Homo sapiens: one gene and its partner. The protein of the gene in region 2 purifies or fractionates together with the protein of the main gene of each other region. This does not show direct contact. Each region holds a gene or a part of one and is shown on either strand. Other genes may lie near its edges.

Region 1 (3,500 bases), about 90 Mb from region 2:
ATTATAGTTCTCATAGCAAACTTTTGCTTTCTAAAATATTCTCGAGTTTGAACTTACAGTACTGTACTAACCCATGAAAAATCATGTTGTTCATGAATCACCTGAAGAAGCCATCTGTTGAGGTGGACTCCAGCAGCCAAAGAGAGCAGGCTTGTGTGTCCTGCTCCTCCCCGTCCATGGGTAAAGTGTTGTTAGGGAGTCTCATGCTTTAACACCCATTTTTTGTTTGTTTGGTTCTGTAGTTTTAAGTCATCTAGATTTCTAAACTCATATTAATAATTGGATGTTATGATTGTACTTTCTTACGCAGTTATGCTTTGTTAGTGGAAGAAAGTAGTAATGGTATTGAAAAGAACATCTGTGCAAGACAAAAAGATATGGAAACAGAAGTACAGGGAAAAGCTAATGATTATCTTCAGCAGCATAATAATTAATCTACAAAGTAATGATTCAGTCTTCCATCAGAGTGGCCACGGCAGCTGCAGAGATGGGAACTCTTTGTTCTCATTAAATTATCTTGTTAGGTCATTCCAGAACTCTCTCTGTGTGGTATTCTAAGGGCTTTCAGAGGGTCTTTCTGGGTCAGTTATTGAAGCTCTTTATGAGGCATCTGGACAATATATGGCAACTACATAGGACAAGGGTCAGCAAACTTCTGTAAAGGACCAGATAGTGAATATTTTCAGCCATACAGTCTCTGTTGCAAGTAGTCAGTTCTATTGTTGTAGCATGAAAACAGCCATAGACAGTATATGCAATATGAGTGTGGCTGTGCTCCAGTAAAACTTGACTTACAAAAACAGGCTGTGGGCTACAGTATTGTACTTTACCAATACTTGACATAGAAGAGGGGCATTAATGTGCCTGGAATGTGCCTTCCTAGTGAGACTTCATGAGGGGATTGTGGTATATAGGTTAAGGGTATGAACTAGCCCAACTGGGTTTAAATCCTGGTGCCGGCACTTATTAGCTGTGTAACCTTAGGCAAGCTACTTAACCTCGCTGTGCCTCAGTGTCCTCATGCTTCACATAAGGATAATTATAGTACCTCTGTCACAGGGTTATTATGAGGAATGAATAAATTAATATTTTTAAAGTATTTAGAACAGTACCTGGCACACAGTAAGTACAGTAAATAAAATGTGTTTAATAAATAATCTGAAAAATATGAATTTGATTACATAAAATAAAATTACTTTATTTAAAGATTGTGTCTCCTGCTAGGCACGGTGCCTCACGCCTATAATCCCAGCACTTCGGGAGGCCAAGGCTGGTGGATCACTTGAGCCCAGGAGTTCGAGACCAGCCTAGGCAACATGGCAAAAACCCTCTCTACAGAAAAATAGCTGGGCATGGTGGTGTGCACCTGTGGTCCCAGCTACTTGGGAGGCTGAGGTGGGAGGGTCGCTTGAGCCCAGGATGTGGAGGCTGCAGTGAGCTGAGATCATGCCACTGCACTCCAGCCTGGGCAACAGAGCAAGACCCTGCCAAGAGAAAAAAAAGACTGTGTCTTTTCACATTCCACCAATATACTGATAGCATCTGTCTCTCTGCATTCTCAATAGCATCAAATATTATTACAGTGGGGGAAAAACCTTTGATAATCTTGTTGGCAAAAATGCGTATTTTTTTGATTACTAGTGAGTTTATTTATTTATTTTTTTATTTTTCGAGATGGAGTCTTGCAGTGTCTCCCAGGTTGGATTGCAGTGGCGCAATCTCAGCTCACTGCAACCTCCATCTCCCGGGTTCAAGCGATTCTCCTGCCTCAGCCTTCTGAGTAGCTGGGACCACAGGCGCGTGCCACCACACCCGGCTAATTTTGTATTTTTAGTAGAGACAGGGTTTCACTGTGTTGGCCAGGCTGGTCTTGAACTCCTGACCTCATGATCCTCCCGCCTTGGCCTCCCAAAGTGCTGGGATTACAGGTGTGAGCCACTGCGACTGGCCAGTGAGTTTAAATATTTAATGAGTCTTGGCACTTTTTCCTTATTGAGCTCTATGAGCTTTTTCTGTAGAAGATATTAACTGTTGGAGCTTCATGTTCTCAGGTACCCTATCTTGAGTCTATAGTGAACCTTTTGAAGTTGAAAAGAGTATTTTTGCCTCAATTATAAAATCTGTATTGTTCCATAATCTTAATTAAGCTGATAAAACTTGTTTGTGCATCTTTGTGCTCATGTGGCAATAGATGGGGTTAGGGCTTGGTTTCAGTTTGCCTAGGGTTAAAGGAGGTTCACATCCTTTGTGTTACTGTCCAGTTTCCCCGCATGCAGTCAGGTTAGCTCTGTGAGGAGTGCCTGGTCATCTGTAATTCAGACATTAAGGAAGTACCTGGTGTGTGCTAGAAACAGAATGCAGAGTTCAGGCCAGGGTGAGGATTTCTGCCCTCAGGAAGATCACAGCCTTTTGACAAAAGAGGAGGCACCATTTGCCTAGTGGAAATCAGCTTCAACAAAAAAATCACCTGCTTTTCTCTACAAGTCCCCGGAAGAGATCAGTAGATAAAATCCAAATCCCACACCTGTCCTCCAGAGAGATGATTATTGTTAGTTACTGAGAAGGGAAATGGATGAAAGGCATATGTGGCACAGGGGTCACCGCAGGATGCAGAGGTCTTAGGGGGTGTGCCGTGAAAGGCCAGCTCTCTGTCAGAGGCTCTGCTCCTTTGTCGGAGCACGTGCCCTCAAGTCAGCTCCACTGCAGTGTGCGCTGGAACCTGAGAAGTTGCTGAGTAGCCGAGGAGTGGCTCCAAGGAGCCTGGAAAGCAGTCCTCCTTTGAGGACCATTCAAGGTGGAGTGTGACGTTTTGTCGATTCTTGAAAGGGAATTGGGAGGAAAGAGGAGGAATAAAGGGATGGGTGTAGGGCTGTGTGTACAGCATTTTATGTGTTTTCTGATTTATCTTCACAACTTTGAGACAAACTGTCACCCCCAGTTCACAGATGATGAAACAGATTCAGAGTGACAGAAGGACCAAGAGAGTATTCAAGATTGAACCCAAATCTGTCTCTCCCAAAGCCATGCTCTTCCAGGTCACACCTGTGCCTTGATCTGTCTTTATGTCAGGATCTGTGCAGTGGGGCATCTGGGTTTGAATGTTTTTTTAAGTACTATGATTGTTGGATAAATTGTCATATGAGATAGAAATAAGGCCATGCTGCAAATTTTGAAAATGTACAGCTTGATAAATGGGGGCAAACATGATCCAGGGTAAGAAGGGGCAATTTGGTGACTTCACAAAAGATACCATTTAATGAAAATTTACTAGTTTTTTGTTTTTCTGTCTCCCAAAACAGGACACTCCTGGGTTTATTGTGAACCGCCTCCTGGTTCCATACCTCATGGAAGCAATCAGGCTGTATGAACGAGGTATCCTTCTGACCCAGGCCAGGAGCAGCAGACCTCAGCTCCTGGCGCCACTGTCTGGAATTCTCAGTGTCTCTAGGAGGGGTCGGGCCGTGCACAATGGAGGAAGCAGTGTCTGTTTTCTAGCTTTG
Region 2 (3,500 bases):
CTTTTGGGATATGAGCTGCCTGCTTTTCAGCGCCACCCACAGCTGCGTGGCTTGGCTGTGACCTCCCCATTGCCTCAGCCATTTTAATAATGTGGTCAAAATTAAGCCCAAGCTCTGCTCCTGGCTCTCGGCATATGTCTGATTCCCCCATGACTCCCTGACCCCTCCCTGCTCTGATTACAAGGAAGCCATAACCAGGTAGCTCTTACCTGAGAGGGAGGAATGACATGACAGACATATCCCACAGGTTTCAACCCAGATAATGTTCATTCATTTACCTGGCACCTGCTGGCCTTGTGCTAAATGCAAGCACCACACAGATGAAGAGATCCTCTGGATGCTTGGTCCTTGCCCTTGTGGGCTAGTGGGGTCCCTGCCATCAGGAATAAATAAGATGAGACCTTCAGCAGATGGTGCCAAGCACAGTGGGGGCCCTGGCACTGGCCAAGGGTTGGCAGCTGTGGGGAGTGGGGGAGAGTGCGGGCTCTGCAGCCAGTCAGCATGGGCTTAAGTCCTGGCTTCACCACTTACTCGTTGGGGGACCTTGCTGGTTACGTGGCTGAAATCTCTGTGCTTCATTTTCTGCATTTGTTTACTAGAGTTGTAATACCGATTTCATGGGGTTTGTATCATCATCCAAAAGAGCACATCAAGTAGGGGGCATGTGGCAGGCCTTCTAGGCCATCTACTGTTACTCACCCACCTCTGTGCTGCCATAGGAAGAGCCAGGGTTGTGAAACACGTGCCTGTATCCTTTCTCTTCTAAAGCTGGTCCTGCTTACGAATGGGTTGGAATTTGGAGCCCCGACTTAGGTAAAAGAAAGCAAAAAGGTCTTCAGTTGCCACGTTAGAGCCATTGCCATACGCTTGCTTTGCAGTTAGCACTTGGGGCTGCAGCATTCCTGATACAGTGAAGGAGAACAAAACGGGCTTTTCTGTGGAAGCCTCTTCTCTTCATTTATGTGGTAGATTTAGAGCTTCAAAGACCCCACAGCACAGGCCCTTTTTCATGTAGATGAGGATTCTGAAGGGAAGTGCCTGACCGGATACCCTCTGGTTCTGCTTTGTGTGGCCATGTTTTCTAGCTTTCTGCACCATACCATCTGCTGCCCTGGGTCAGATCACAAAAAATGAATCCAGGTCCTGTGTGCCAATTGTTTTTGATTTGTAGTCTTCCTCTTTTGTTTTCTGTAAGGTAAGAGTGTCTCTTAGTTGGCAGGCAGTCAGCGTTCTTGAGAGGTTGTTTGACAGTCACTTTATCTTTCTTCTGCCAGTGGGGATCAGGAGGCCTGGCAGAAAGGAGTCCTGTTTGCTTCTGGGCAGAACTTGGCACGCCAATTGATGGAGACGCCAGCCAATGAGATGACGCCAACCAGATTTGCTGAAATTATTGAGAAGAATCTCAAAAGTGCTAGTAGTAAAACCGAGGTCCATATCAGGTAATTCAGGATTGTGTCACAGACTCGAGATGTTACAGCCAGAAGGAGCCCTTGAGATCCTAAAATCCAGCTCCCTCACTTTTTAGAGGAATAACTTGAGACCAGAGATTTGAGATGACCCACTTGGGTCCACATGGGGAGCTGGAATAGAGCTGAGTTTGAGGTTCTTTCTATCTTTCCTTGCCTTTGAGAGAGAGAGTGCCATGATATACTATGTATGTGTATATTTCATAACTGTGTTATTCAGACACAATTAACATGCCATAGAATTCACCAATGCAAAGTGTGCAATTCAGTGATTTTTTTTTTTTTTTTTTTGAGACAAGGTTTTGCTCTGTTGCCCAGGCTGGAGGGCAGAGGCATGAACATGGGCTCAATTTCCTGGGCTCAGGCCTCCCACCCTAGCCTCCTCAATAGCTGGGATTACAGGTGTGTGCCACCATGCCCAGCTAATTTCTTAATTTTTTGTAGAGATGGGTCTCCCGCTGTGTTGCCCAGGCTGGTCTTACACTCCTGGGCTGAAGCAATCTCACCTTTTCCTCCTAAAGTGCTGAGATTACAGCCATGACCCCGCCATGCGGCCTGGTATTTAGAATATTCACAGAGTTGTGCTACCATGACCACAATCAATTTTAGAACATTTTCATAACCCCCAAAGGAAACCCTATACCCATTAGCAGTTACTCCCTGTTTCCCATTCCCTAAAGCCAGCAGGGGATGGACACTTTGGTTGTTTTTACCTTTTATTTCTTTTTGGTATATGCCTAGGAGTTGAATTGCTGAATCAAATCGTAGTTCTGTTTAACTTTTTGAGGAACTTCACATGGCTTATTTTGGTGAATTATTCCTATCATCACTTTTGGACACAAATGAAGAACACAGCATGCCTAACTAGACATGGGATGAGAATTTCTGCCTCATAGATTCCCTTAGCCTAGACTCCAGCATTGGTGCTCCCAGGTGTCCCTGAATGCTGTGTCAGTGGGAGGCTGTTGGAGCTGAAAGCCTGCTCGTCCAGTTCCGTCGCTCTCTTGGGATCTCCAGCCCTTTAAGCAAACCAACTCTGAGCATTTGGGAATTTATAATTAAAACAAATGAACAGGTATTTGTTTGACCTAAAGAATTCTTTATTGTCAAAGTTGTTTCCCAAGGGTACTTCCATTTAAAAGAATTCTTTAGTACTTAATTGTGATTAGAGTTCGTGTTTTTCAGGAAAGCATCTATGGTTTAGACAGAGTGAAGAAAAATTAATAGTCTGTAGAAAGCACAGTACTTAGAGCTTGATAAAATTTCTGGAATGGTTAGTATATGTTTAATCTATAGCAATGTTTAGGTTCTATAAAAGTATCTTTTTGGTCACCAAATAGTGGTTATGACAGCCCCTCTGGTGTGCCTGGAATTTATCATACAAAGATGCATGAAGTGGTCCTTGTCCTTGCAGAAAGTGAGGATGTTGTAAGAAGGAATAGGGAGGTAAATGGCATTTGCAGAGGGTACTGCAGGATCAGAGGGATGAGGGGGACTGCCAAAGAATATGAAGCTGCTGGTGCGATTGTGCACACCTCTATTTGCAGCTACTCAAGAGGCAGGCAGGAGGGTCTGTCAAGTCCAGAAGTTCAAGGCCAGCCTAGGGAACATAGCAAGACCCATCTCTAAAATAAAAATTTTAATAAGAATATGGAGTCTAGGCCAGGCATGGTGGCTCATGACTGTAATCCCAGCACTTTGGGAGGCTGAGGCAGGTGGATCACTTGAGGTCAGGAATTCAAGACCAGCCTGGCCAACATGGCGAAACACCATCTCTACTAAAAGTACAAAACTTAGCTGGGAGTGGTGGTGCGTGCCTGTGATCCCAGCTACTCGGGAAGCTGAGGCACAAGAATTGCTTGAATCTGGGAGATGGAGGTTGCAGTGAGCTGAGATCGCACCGCTGCACTCCAGCCTGGGCGACAGAGAGACACTGTGTCTCAAAAAAAGACTGGAGCCTAAGGAGAGTCCTGCAGGTTGCTTAGAAGTTACAGTACAAGAGAGTGGGGCAGGACAGTTCAGGTGAGGAAGCTG

What was found. Proteins that work in one complex are often made in the same cells at the same time.
Region 1: the proteins of LAP3 (region 2) and HADH fractionate together in Homo sapiens (co-fractionation; one large-scale study listed by BioGRID). This does not show direct contact.

The regions. Positions count from the first base shown.
Region 1 is NC_000004.12:108,024,389-108,027,888, forward strand, and holds part of HADH (hydroxyacyl-coenzyme A dehydrogenase, mitochondrial isoform 2 precursor), read left to right. Parts: intron 1-3,299; coding exon 3,300-3,372; intron 3,373-3,500. UniProt on the Homo sapiens protein: Mitochondrial fatty acid beta-oxidation enzyme that catalyzes the third step of the beta-oxidation cycle for medium and short-chain 3-hydroxy fatty acyl-CoAs (C4 to C10).
Region 2 is NC_000004.12:17,583,698-17,587,197, forward strand, and holds part of LAP3 (cytosol aminopeptidase), read left to right. Parts: intron 1-1,274; coding exon 1,275-1,439; intron 1,440-2,544; exon of another isoform or gene 2,545-3,500. UniProt on the Homo sapiens protein: Cytosolic metallopeptidase that catalyzes the removal of unsubstituted N-terminal hydrophobic amino acids from various peptides.